Linked DNA regions of Homo sapiens. The protein of the gene in region 1 interacts with the protein of each later gene in a pairwise test. Each region holds a gene or a part of one and is shown in the gene's direction. Other genes may lie near its edges.

What was found. The genes of interacting proteins can lie anywhere in the genome.
Region 2: the proteins of KALRN (region 1) and CDC5L interact in a two-hybrid assay, tested with the Homo sapiens proteins (2 studies listed by BioGRID and IntAct).

What each region holds. Positions count from the first base shown.
Region 1 is NC_000003.12:124,715,352-124,722,391, forward strand, and holds part of KALRN (kalirin), read left to right. Parts: intron 1-1,895; coding exon 1,896-2,034; intron 2,035-3,573; coding exon 3,574-4,119; 3' UTR 4,120-7,040. UniProt on the Homo sapiens protein: Promotes the exchange of GDP by GTP. Activates specific Rho GTPase family members, thereby inducing various signaling mechanisms that regulate neuronal shape, growth, and plasticity, through their effects on the actin cytoskeleton.
Region 2 is NC_000006.12:44,425,692-44,432,731, forward strand, and holds part of CDC5L (cell division cycle 5-like protein), read left to right. Parts: intron 1-411; coding exon 412-492; intron 493-790; coding exon 791-1,033; intron 1,034-4,021; coding exon 4,022-4,219; intron 4,220-7,040.

The sequences.
Region 1 (7,040 bases):
TTCTTTACCAGGCAACTGAGATTTGGATTCCCTAGTCTAGGGTAGGATGTGGGCATCTGCCTTATCCAAAAGCTCTAAAGGTGAACTTGGTGGCTAAGACTCTCTCACTTGGAGCAGTGCTGCTGTTAATTGCTCCCTTAATGACTCCAAGAAGTTCAGGGGAATACATTTAACAAGCCCAATCCTACTCCACTCTACTCTGATCACTCTTACCTCACCCTTAGCAGGGTCAGAGGAAAGCAAAAGAGGCTTGCATGGGTTCTAGCCTTTGCTCCTGTCAGGGAAAGTAGAAGACACCAGTGGGAAGGAGCAAGCTAGAGGGGAAGAGGTAAACTTGACCAGGGGGATTTCAGCTGTAACTGAAAGTCATTTCTGACCCTGCATCAGGCTCCTCTGCATGGGCATTTCCTGGGCATGTGCCTTTAACAACTCAATGTACACTAAAGAATACCTGACATTTGGTAACTCCTTGCTGTAAGAGGACAGAGGGTGGCTGAGAATAGTTACCATTTATTTAGCACTTACCTATGCTACCAATTATGCTTAAATGCTTCATCATCTCACTCCATCCTTGCACAATCCTCATAATCAAATAGGTGAACAGTAATATTCACCCACTATATGATAATATTAATTCATTATATTATATTAATATAATGAATAATAATTGTTATTATTTTGTTGCTGTTCTTATTCCCACTTTAAAGATGGTTCACTTTGGTGAAACCAAAACACAGAGTTCAAATGACTTGCTCCCAGCCTTCAGCAGGTAGGTAACAGAACCAGGATTCGAATCTGGGTCTGGATGGCTCCATATACCATGTTCTCAATCACAGTTCTCAAGGTTGGAAAAGTTGCCCAGAAGGCAAAGGATTCAAAAAGGGATCAAGAGCCGGGCACGCTGGCTCATGTTTGTAATCCCACCGTTTTGGGAGGCCCAGGCGGGTGGATCACTTGAGACCAGGAGTTTGAGACCAGCCTGGCCAACATGGCAAAACTCTGTCTCTACTAACAATACAAAAATTAGCTGAGTGTGATGGCACACGCCTGTAATTCCAGCTACTTGGGAAGCTGAGACACCAGAATCGCTTGAACCTGGGAGGCGGAGGTTGCAGTGAGCTGAGATCATGCCACTACACTCCAGCCTGGGTGAAAGAGAGACTTTGTCTCAAAAACAAAACAAACAAACAACAACAACAAAAAAAAGGTGGTGGGGTAGGGGAGGGACAGAGAATCAATAATGCAAAGAACAAACTTTGCCTACTTTCTGTTTTCCCCAACTTAAAACTGACAAATGAAAGTAGTTTGGCTAGGCACAGTGGCCTCCTCCAGAAATCCCAGCTATGTGAGGGGCTAAAGCAAGAGGATCACTTGAGTCCAGGAGTTCGAGGCTGCAGTGAGCTATGATTGTGCCACAGCATTCCAGCCTGGGCGACACAGTGAGACTTCATCTCTAAAATTAATCTTAAAATAAAATTAAGAAGTACTTTGCAAAACACATGTGGGGCTGTTTGCAGCCACTAGGTTATGGTTAATCAGGATATTGCTGAAGTCTCTCTTGGTGAAGGCTTTCTTTACTTAGCAATCAAACCTCTTAAATGGGTGTCACAACTTTTTTCTTGTGAGCAATTTTTAGAGTTAATGAAGGAGAATGTTTCTTAAACAAGGTTATACACACTCCCTGCAGTATACCATATTTGTAAATATATTTATTTTAGTTCTGAATATTACAATAACTTTAGGCTCTAACTAAATATGCATGTGTTGCACATTTGGTCTTCATGTATAACAATAAGTATGAGAGAGTTTAGAGATCTTACTGATTTGTACATGTGTTATTTTTCTATTTCTTCATTTCAAACATATTTCCTTTGCCTTTCCCTGCCTACTTTCAGGATGGATGATGGCCGGCTCTTAGACTACCTTATGAATCATGATGAACTGATGGAGGAAAAAGTAGCTTTCTATATCCGAGACATCATGGAGGCTCTGCAGTACCTTCACAACTGCAGGGTTGCACATTTGGACATAAAGGTAATAAGAAGTGGCAACCTGCTGGGCGCAGTGGCTCACGCCTGAAATCCCAGCACTTTGGGAGGCCAAGGTGGGCGGATCACAAGGTCAGGAGATCGAGACCATCCTGGCTGACACGGTGAAACCCCGTCTCTACTAAAAATACAAAAAATACAAAAAAATTAGCCAGGAGTGGTGGTGGGCACCTGTAGTCCCAGCAACTTGGAAGGCTGAGGCAGGAGAATGGCATGAACCTGGGAGGCGGAGCTTGCAGTGAGCCGAGATCGCGCCACTGCACTGTAGCCTGGGCGACAGAGCGAGACTCCCTTCAAAAAAAAGAAGTGGCAACCTTGCAGGGAATACCTTAAATGGCCAAGTCCAACTTACCAGTCATTACTCATAAGGAATATAAATTCAAATTCATTTTATTTACTTAGAGTAGAATATTATAACTTTTTTTTATTTGAGACAGAGTCTGACTCTGTTGCCGAGGCTGAAGTGCAGTGGTGCGATCTCGGCTCGCTGCAACCTCCGCCTCCCAGGTACCAGCGATTCTCCTGCCTTAGCCTCCCAAGTAGCTGGGATTACAGGCGCTCACCACCATGCCCAGCTAATTTTTGTATTTTTAGTAGAGACAGGGTTTCATCATGTTGGCCAGGCTGGTCTTGAACTCCTGACCTCAAGTGATCTGCCCGCCTTGGCCTCCCAAAGTGCTGGGATTACAGGCGTGAGCCAACACATCCATCCCATTATGACTATTTTTTTTTTTTTTTTTGAGATGGAGTCTCGCTCTGTCACCCAGGCTGGAGTACAGTGGCATGATCTCAGCTCACTGCAACCTCTACCTCCCAGGTTCAAGCAATTCTCTGCCTCAGCCTCTTGAGTAGCTGGGATTACAGGCGCCCACCACCATGCCTGGCTAATTTTTTTGTATTTTTAGTAGAGATGGGGTTTCAACATCTTGGCTAGGATGGTCTCGAACTCCTGACCTTGCGATCCACCCGCCTTGGCCACCCAAAGTGCTGGGATTATAGGTGTGAGCCACCGTGCCCGGCCTCCCCATTATGACTATTAAAGAGAATCTGGGCTGTCACACAATTTAAGTGTATCATCCATGAATTAATGAGAATATGCCAGAGCCACAATGACATCTGGTGTGAGAGAAGGTAGGGAAGTTCTACCTACCTAATCTAACTTCATAGAAGTAAGCCAACAAACGTCACCTTCTCTTCCATGCTTCTCAAAAAGAAGCCCCTGTTCACCAAAATGAGTAATTTATTATTTCCTTGATTCAATGCAGAAGCAGTGTAGTTAAGAAAACATGATTTTCAATGTCAAACAACTTCTCTGAATTACCACCCAAACTCAAAGTGTAGTAAGCTCAAAATGATAGTTTGAAGTATCCTATGCAGTTTCCGTAGTGCATAGGGAATTTTCTGTACACCATAGGCTTTATCAAAGAATAGCATAACTGTGTTTGAATTAATGAGGTATTTTGAGTAGTCAAAATAGAGGCCTAAACTTCCCTTCTTTTCTCCCTGCTTCCTTGGATCTCTGCAGCCTGAAAACCTGCTCATTGACCTACGGATTCCAGTGCCTCGAGTGAAGCTCATTGACTTGGAGGATGCTGTCCAGATCTCGGGTCACTTCCACATTCACCACCTGCTGGGGAACCCTGAGTTTGCTGCCCCAGAAGTCATTCAAGGCATCCCCGTCTCCCTGGGGACAGACATCTGGAGCATCGGGGTTCTGACATATGTCATGCTGAGTGGGGTCTCCCCCTTCTTGGATGAGAGCAAAGAGGAGACATGTATCAACGTATGCAGGGTGGATTTCAGCTTCCCCCATGAATACTTCTGTGGTGTGAGCAATGCTGCCAGAGATTTCATCAATGTGATCTTACAGGAAGATTTTCGGAGGCGGCCCACAGCAGCCACATGCTTGCAGCATCCATGGCTGCAGCCCCATAATGGCAGCTACTCTAAGATCCCCCTGGACACCTCCCGCCTAGCATGCTTCATAGAACGTCGCAAGCACCAGAATGATGTGCGGCCTATTCCCAATGTCAAGAGCTACATTGTCAACCGGGTGAACCAAGGGACGTAGCCATCTCCCAGCCCCTATGGTTTCACATAGACGTGCAGTGTGAACCAAAGCAAGACTGAATGTGACTGTAAATAATTCTGTTCATCATTTCACTCCGTGCAGTTCTCTGAATTGAGAGATGTACCTCTTAAACCTCGTCAGTGGTTATTCAGGGTCTGAGCAGCAGTAAAAGTCACCCTAAATCAAGGGGCTTTTCAGAAGGTCATTCTGAAGAAATAAAGAGGCAAAGGGTCACAGAAGTGTTCAGAAGAAGGGCAAAGATAAGAACAATATTAGCTGTTACGAAATTTTAACTGTATCTTCCAAAATGAGTGGTTAACTGGGCAAACCTTAAGCTCACAAGAGTATAAAAGATCTCTGGCTTTGCTGAAATTTTAAGCAAGAAGTTCTATTTAATGGAGATGTCATGTATATCAACTATTCTGGTTTAGATAACTTAGATATAGTTTCTTAATAGGATAGATACCCACATACAGTATAATATATCCCATTCAGGTTTCAGAGTTTTCTAATATAGAGATATATATATTAAATCAATCACAAGTAATTTTGAGTGCTCCAGTTAAGACAGTAATTTATTTACCGAATCATTACATTGTTTTGACTAAGCACAATTAGATGACAAGTTTTTTTAGAGCATTTTATAGATCTTGTATAGAAATCTTTTACCAGAACCTGTGCATTAAGAGAAAGCAATGTTGCCCTTTTGAATGAGAAAATTTTTTCTGTCAATCGCAGGTTATTTGATTAAGATAGGTTCTTTCTGTATATGAAACGCTCCCCGCAAATTCACTGGCAGCTCAGAATTATTCTGGAAAGAAAGCCTGCCAGGAAATAAATTCAAATACAGTATGAGCTGCGGGGATATTTTTGTGTCTACACCAGGTTTGAAATAAGTAAACAAATACAAGAGGTTCATATAAAAGGGCAAATGAAAACCTTTCCTACAGTTCCTATGAACAACGTACCAACACTTTCTGATTTCTTCTACAGCTGTAGAATACCATCTTTCAGAAAGTTGGCTGGCTTTATTTCTAACTCCTTATTGAAGCTAAGGGGTGCTTACTAAAAGGAGGCAGCCATATAGGCCTTTTAAAGGCCTGGTTCTAAGTCCTTTTTAAAGCCATGGAACAAAACCTGATACATCACCCTAACAGAGCATTAAGTTGTAACTGAGATTGCAATACCTGTCACCATGCAGCCGCTGATAGTTCTCTGAACTAAAAGGACTAATTGTACTTTGAGGCCAATGCTGCTTTCTGGTGTATATTCTCCATACAAGATTATTATTAACTGCTCTTTTTCCCTCTGGTGGAAAAAAAATTAAACCTGGGCATTTCATGGGTTTTCTTTCTTTATTTTTGTTCATTTGTTTTGGAGGGAGGGAGCTTGTTTTTTGTGTTTGTACATGATCCACCCTTAGTTTTCTAGAATGTGTGTTGAAAATTGCGATTATACAAGTAAGATTTTAAAAATGTAACTCAAGTGTTTGTTCAAATCAGGTTTAATGGTGTTGCTTCTCTCCTATAATGGGATAGAGAAAATTAAAATCACGTAGTACAGAAGTGCAAGAAGAGAATTTATGAAGGATGAATAGAACTACAAACCTATCTAAATGAAAAAGAAATGGTGGAAACTAAGCCTGAACTTTAACATATAAAAAACACTTATTCCCACAGAGAAAATGTAAAATTAAAAATCATCATCTTTTTTTTTCCATTGGTTTCAAAGACAACTTCCTCATTCGCCCTCCACCTCATCCCATCCAAGATTATAGATTGATAAATTAATGGAAAGTATAAGCAATAAGACTAGATAGCACTTAGTATTTTTGGGATTAACCAAATATATGGAAACCGACTCCGACTGTATTTGTTTCTTAATTTTCAAATGGCCCTGGGTCATAAAGCCTCACTCCCTCAGAGGTCTCTCGACTAACCCCTATAGTCTTCATTTGGACCTTTATGTATTTACAAACACTCTATGATACAATACATAAAAATTTAAAACATACATTAAACATGGTTACTAAAATTTTTCAAAATGTAAAACATATTTAGTAAAAAAATTTTAGTAAACATGTTTTCATTGTGTTTAAAAAATTTAAAACATATTTACTAAAAATCCTTTTAGTAAACAGTTTACTAAAACCCTTTCAATAAACATGTCTTCATTATGGTATACAGCATAAAAGAGGAAAGCCTGAGCCGGGCGCGGCGGCTCACGCCTGTGATCCCAGCACTTTGGGAGGCCGAGGCGGGTGGATCACAAGGTCAGCAGTTCGAGACCAGCCTGACTAACATGGTGAAACCCTGTCTCCACTAAAAATACAAAAAAATCATCTGGGCGTAGTGGCGGGCACTCGTAATCCCAGCGACTTGGGAGGCTGAGGCAGGAGAATCGCTTGAAACCGGAAGGCGGAGGTTGCCGTGAGCCGAGATTGCACCACTGCACTCTAGCCTGGGCAATAAGAGCAAAATTCTGTCTCGAAAAAAAAGGAAAGCCTGGCCCATAGGGTTTGTCATGGGACAAACTGTAGGCTCTGAGGATTCCCAATATCCATAAAGTCCAGCTTGGCAAGTTCTGTTCTGTCCACTGTGGATGACCTGAATCAAGATCCCCCTGCTGAGCCATTCTGAGTTTTTATAACAAGTTGAGTTTCTGCTTGAGAAGGCCAGGGCCCAGAACAATGGTGTGCAGACCACGGCAGGTGGGGGACAAGGAGGGTATTTTTGAAATTATGTTATGGGGGCAGTTGACAGAATGTTAGACAGACCCCAAGCTTTCATATCAGCTTTTACAACAGAGTTGGGAGGATCCAGATGTGGGGTTGCATGGAATTCCCCCAAGTACACATATTTGGGAAGTGAGAAGACAGGAAAGGAGGGACCTAGAAATGAAAAGTAGGATGATTTTGTTAA
Region 2 (7,040 bases), on another chromosome or scaffold:
TGTTATCCCACATTATTCATAAGAATCAGGAAACAATACATTTTTTGGCTGGCTTTTTGAGTTAAAAGTCAGTAATTTTGGAGTGAAAGGGAAGAAAGAGTTTTGTCGTGGGAGTCTCTTTGGAGTTTAGGTTTTCCATTTAGATGAGAAAAGTTTGTTACGTGATATGGATCCATGCAAGTTTGGAGAATGCTCTAGTAGACATTGGAAGCTCTTAGTTTCTATTATAATGAGAGTGAATAGACTGATTCATTTCTGTTGCCTTAGCATTGCCTTTCTACAAACTTAAACCGATTTCTAAACTTTAGCTATTGAACACACATGATCTTACATACCAAAGTGTTTTTAGCTTTACTGAGAGATATCAAATACGCTATAGCTGCAATAAAGGATATAAAAATCATTTTTTAGGCCATACGAGATGCAGAGCGTGTAAAGGAAATGAAACGAATGCATAAAGCTGTCCAGAAAGATCTGCCAAGACCATCAGAAGTAAGTGTTAGAATTTCTGGTTTAGGAAGTTTTAAGTTTCTTTTTATATGATTGCTGCGTTTTACATCATTCATAAAGACTATAAAACAAAATTTCATCTACTTTCTGGAATATAGCAAAGTAGTTCTCAAATCCAATCTTTAAAATGTTTCAGTAGTACCAGAAAGAATTTAGAAGGAAAAAAATGGAAATTGCTTTTGAAAATGTAAAACCGCTGTTTAATTCATGCTGTAACAGGTAATAACATTAATATATTATAGTGATATGTTTGGTAATTGTATTTGTTTTAAAATTTTAGGTAAATGAAACTATTCTAAGACCCTTAAATGTAGAACCGCCTTTAACAGATTTACAGAAAAGTGAAGAACTAATCAAAAAAGAAATGATCACAATGCTTCATTATGACCTTCTACATCACCCTTATGAACCATCTGGAAATAAAAAAGGCAAAACTGTAGGGTTTGGTACCAATAATTCAGAGCACATTACCTATCTGGAACATAATCCTTATGAAAAGTTCTCCAAAGAAGAGCTGAAAAAGGTATGATTGAGCTGGAATATTTCTTCTTGAGATTTAGGTAGTTGTTAGGTGCTGTGTATCATGGACAAATAATGAACTTATTTTTCCCTGTTGGTATTCATAAACAACTGAAATGTATGATTAGGAGATGCATGTTTAGATTAAGTGTTATGAAAAGGACATGCTTTAAATACCTCCATCCCCCGTGTTCAGTGTGATAGACCTTTAGCAAATAAACACCGCCAGGGTGTTTTTGGTTCATGGGTATTAATGGCTTCGTTGACAGTTGTTACAGTTGCCGTTTTCTGTATTCAGCTCTGCTATCTCTGAATAAAAATTAGATGCCTTTAGTACTTAAACATCACTTATTTAGAATAATATGAAGAGGTGAGAGAGACTAATATAAAAATGTTTATAGATTAAACCTTTTAGCTATTGAAAGGAAGGAAGTATTTTTTTTACTGAATATATTCCCCTCACATGATTTCCCCCTACTCTTTTGGATAAGGACATGAAGAAATGATTTCTTATATGAAGTCTGTATCTGGTCTTTTCTTCTACATGCATTTTATTCCTTCTGTTTTGACAGAGCAAACAACTGTGATTGTAAATAGAAATCTCCATAATTGTATAAGAAGATACAGTGGGTCTCATCGTTGGAAGCAGAGTGGTCATTAGCTTAAAAGTCTTTTTTTCTTTAGCCTTCAGCCCTGAGGAGCAGTGATAGACCTATGGATTTGGAATGAGCTGCTGTATACTTAGGATAAAACAAACAAGATTCTTACAAACTCTCCTGTCTTCTCTCCTGCATTCTTCCTCTTTCTTCGCTTTTCACAATTTCTTACTTTGTGTTTTCTTTATTGCATAAGTAATACATTATTTATTATAGGATTTTTAGAAAATAGAGAAAGGAAGGAGGGTTTCGATTTATATTTCAATAACTTGTCCCTGATTTCAGAATAACTGAGTCACTCATTTTTTAGTAAGTGCAGTAGGGAAACTAACATCTGTTGAGTTGCCTACTCTGTCGAGCACATTTAATCATTGAACTGGGATTGAGAATCAGGCTACGAAATTGATACTTGCACAGTTTCCTCTTTTGAAAGTGAAAATATGAGGGGAAGAGGAATTTAGGAAATAAATTTTCCTAAATTGTATGTATGGAAACCTAAAACAAGGATCACATTGTTGCTTTTGGAGATTCTGTAGAGGGTAAACCCTAACACAATTTTTGAAAAATAATAATTCTAAGTATTGGTTTGTAATTGTTTGAAACAAAGTAGCTTAAATATTCTCTCATATTTTATCTGTGTATATCTCTCTTTGTTCCAAAAAGAATTTGAAGCAGCTATTTAGTTAGCAGATTATTTATGGATAGTTTAAAGATAACTTAGCCATATTCTCTCGTAATGATTATAAGATCTGAACTTGTAAATTTTTACTCTGTGCAGTTTCAGAGTGAAATAGCATTTCTCTTTTAATAAACTGTCAGATTTTCTTTTTCTTTAATATACTTTAAGATATGTTAACATTGATTTGTTTCCATTATTTCCCTTAAGGTATTAAGTGTCCATTTTTTCTTCTATAGAGATGATTTTCCGTTTCTTTTGTTAAAATTTTTTGTTTATCAATCATTTCTCTTGATTTTGTAGATTTTGATGTGTTTATTTTCATTATTACTGGAAAGATTGAAAGCCTTCTGTAAGGCACAGAAGGTGGTTCCCAGTTTTTCATAAGCCATGAAGCAAAGGGCTGGGAAAAAATTCATATGCTTATGGAATTCTGTGTGTCTGGCATTGGGCTAGGCTCTATAGTATATTGTTCACTTAATCCTAATAACAAACACATCTGATCTAAGGTCAGCATCATCATTGCTTGGAAAGCTGTTTTTCAGCTTTCCAGGCTGAAAAAGCCCTGAGAAATGGGCTCAGATAAATTAAGCAAGCTCAAAGAGCTGCTTCAATGGTAAAGCTGTGATCTGAACCCAGGCCTGTCCAGCTTTCCCTCTCATTCTGTCATTTTACACTATTTTCTTTAGTAGTGAACTAAACTGGTTTATGATCTATCATCTAATTCGTGCCCCAGTCTCATTATCTGGCAATGTCAGGGCATTCCTTCAGGATGAGAAAAATGCCATGTGACAAAAAGATGCCTAGCTCCCCTTTACCATCACGTGAGGTCCTGCACACATGGTGGAGTGGGAGAGTGGAAGGGGCACACCCAGTGGTGCCATTTGTATTCTGCCTCATCTGCCTACTAACGATGTGGTCTTAACAAGTGGTTGAATCTCTATGAGCCTTAGTTTCATTAGCTTTTTTTTTTTTTTTTTTTTTTTTGAGACTGAGTCTCACTCTGTTGCACAGGCTGGGGTGCAGTGGCACGATCCCAGCTCACTGCAGCCTCCACCTCCTGGGTTCAAGGGATTCTTGTGCCTCAGCCTCCTGAGTAGCTAGGATTACAGGCATGTGCCACTACGTCCTACTAATTTTTACATTTTTAGTAGACACGAGGTTTTGCTGTGTTAACCAGGCTAGTCTTGAACTCCTGGCCTCGTTATCCGCCCACCTCAGCCTCCCGAAGTGCTGGGATCATAGGAGGGAGCCACCGTGCCTGGCCAAATTTCATTAGCTTTTAAATGAGGTTAATATTGGCTAATTTGTAAGGTGATTATGATCTTTGGATATAATGTAGGTAAAACTTTTAAACCTAGTTTCTCACACACACAATAGGTACCTGAGAAATGATAGCTGCTGTTATAGTGAGTGAAAGCAAAGGATGTTTATACTTTTGAGGAAACATGGATGCTTGATTTTTAAAAAGCAGTCTGCATTGACTCAAAGGCTTCTTAAGCTATTTTTCCTAGGTATTGTTATCCACCCTTCCAAAAAACAACCAACCACATCTTGGATTTGACTCAAGGCATGAGGGAAAAAATTAGTCTTCTAAAGCTCTCTGGATATGGCAAGTGTTTGTAGTACTTAAACTTATTGAAATTATTATTGTAAACAGGCCCAGGATGTTTTGGTGCAGGAGATGGAAGTGGTTAAACAAGGAATGAGCCATGGAGAGCTCTCAAGTGAAGCTTATAACCAGGTGTGGGAAGAATGCTACAGTCAAGTTTTATATCTTCCTGGGCAGAGCCGCTACACACGGGCCAATCTGGCTAGTAAAAAGGACAGAATTGAATCACTTGAAAAGAGGCTCGAGGTTGGTATCCTTTTAAAATTTTAATTTTAAATGTACTTTGATTGAGATAATGAACTAAATAATGCCACTGGAGACAATGTCAGAAAAACACACCTGAGGTGCTTATTGCCTTTTTAGTTGTTGGAGAAAACTACACTTAAGTGTTGGATCTTCTTGGCCTTGTTCATTGTTTTTTTTTGTTTGTTTTGTTTTTGTTTTTTTTTTAAAGAATTGTTGGCCTTCATGACTAAAGAGTGCCCTGCAAGTTGACCAGAGGTCAATCAGAACCTTTAGATGTGGGAGCAAGGAGCCAAGAAGCCAATACTAGTCACTCAGAACAGGCAGGTCATTGCTAGCATAGCCTGTTTTCTCTGAAGAGGAATCTCAGCAGTAACGAGGAGTTTTCTTTTTATAACAAAGAGAGTACATTTACAAAACTTAAATACAATTCTGTTCATCCTTGGATTACTGTGAGTTTGAGTTAGGGAGGGCAGAGCTGGATTATCTAGTTAGTGGCTTCCATGATTTTTCATGTCTGTGAAAATGTTGAAAACATACTAGATGCAGTTTCAGGACATGTGGTTTCTTAATATAGTTTGCATATTTTGAATTCCAGAATCTGTGTAGGCATTTTGCCAATGGCATGTAAATTGTGGTTCACAGACCACCAGGCTGCCTTGTGCATTCTTTTTTTTTTTTTTTGAGACCTAGTCTCAGTCTGTTGCCAGGCTGCAGTGCAGTGGTGCAATCTTGGCTCACTCCAACCTCTACCTCCTGGTTTCAAGCGATTCTCCTGCCTCAGCCTCCCTAGTAGCTGGGACTACAGGCACGCCCCACCACGCCCAGTTAATTTTTGTATTTTTAGTAGAGACAGAGTTTCACCATGTTGGCCAGGATGGTCTTGATCTCTTGACCTCGTGATCCACCCATCTCAGCCTCCCAAAGTGCTGGGATTACAGGCGTGAGCCACCATGCCCGGCTATGCCTTGTGCATTTTTAATGGTAATCTTTAGGGGCATTTCTAAGGCCAAGGTGGGATGGGAGAGAAGGGGTACTTCAGGCAGTCATATACAGAAAATCGTCTTGGTTTCCTCTTTTATGTGATTACCAGTTTCTCTTTACAAAAAGTGCATTTGAAAATATTTTTATTTAGGGTTAAAGCCAGAAGTAGTAAAATCACTTGGGGTGGTTGGGGCTGTATGGGGCTGAGGAAATGAGCAGGAAAAAGCAGTATCTTTTAATTTGAGTTATTCTGAGTTTTAATTTAACCATTAAGATCACATATATATAGGTAGCTGATGGTTAATGCCTGTGAACCTCTTTTTTTCTCAGTGAGAAATGACTGGTTCTGAAGTAATTCTCATCTTGGGTAAAATCTTAGTTCAGTGCTGCTAATTATTTGTATTACCAACTTCCAGCAGGGTGTGCTGTTGCTCTGTGTTGTGGTTCAGTGTTAAAGCCAGGGAAAATAGAACATCAGTGGTTAAATTGTAAGTTACATTTTTTTGTTGTGTAGGCTTCATTTCTTATAAATGGTAGTTAGCAGTGTAATTGTGATCTAATATCAGCATCATCACTGATTGAAAAGCTATTTGGAAAGCTTCTTTGTATTATTTATATATAAATACTTAGGTTTCTTACTTAGTATGAAAATCTTCTCATTTGAGGTGGGTAAACTCTTTTTGCCGCAAATGGCAAGAACATTTTGTGCTTTTTTAAATGGTAGAAAATTTTTTTCTCCCTAAATCTCATTTACTTTGTTGAGGTACTAACTTTCATGACAGCAAATAAATGTGTCACACAGTGAGTGGTGCCATAAAGTACAGTAATTTTTATTTCTGTGTTGAATTGGTCTTATGAATTTTAAAGGGAAAAATACAGAAAGAGCCACTCCTGTTCTTTTGGAGATTTATTTGGGTCGTTTATGAGCAACCATTAAAAACATGTGGTTCTCTTTGTTCAGTTCAGTACCAGGAACTGAAATCTTCCGTTGAACTATTTTTGTTGAAGGATTGGTGATTTTGGAGAATATTCATAAAGCAGTCTGAAGTCATTTTTCTTTTCTTGACTCTTGGATAACTTACTTTATTGTTTACCCAGCTAGTTACTTTTAAAGAATACTTAATCAAGTCCTTTAATTTGGTAAACTGTGCTTATTTCAAATGAAAGTTCATGAAATCTTTTAAAAAAAGAAAAGCAGCTCAAAGACTTGAATAAACAAACCCCCATTTTATTTGTATCCATCACTAATTCAGAACTAGGTTTCTTTTAGCTTGTTTTAGTTTTTGAAGACACAGTTCTATTGGTTTGAAATACATAAATATTTTATTTCAATTGTGGTAATTCTTTCATTTCAGTTGATTGCTAAATTATAAACATTATTCAAAGTTTGTTGTGGGGAAGGAACTCCAGTTATATTGTATAAACTAAATGCTATACTTAAATTATCCTTTCCACTCTTAGGTTCAGGAGATAAGCCCTTCTCTGTAAGCACTGTATGCCATGGCTGCCAGTGTGTTTGATTTTTGCTGCCATGAACTTTGGAACCGTGAATCTAAATTATGGCCCTATCACTGCCTATCAAGCAAGATGAAGTCCAGCTTTGTCGTGGCTGGTGTCTCCTGAATGGATTAAAAAAAAAAAATGCCCTGAGGTTTATATTGGAGGTAGTCTTTGAGCCATTCATTACTCATGATTAATATTTGAAACTTAGCACTTAAGTGAAAATCCTTAAGATACTCATTTAAAACTAATAGAACCATCTCAGATTTTATGTAGAATGTGGTAGAGGATGTGTGTGTGCAAGGAGTTTGTTAAATAAATAGAATCAGAATGCAGTTAC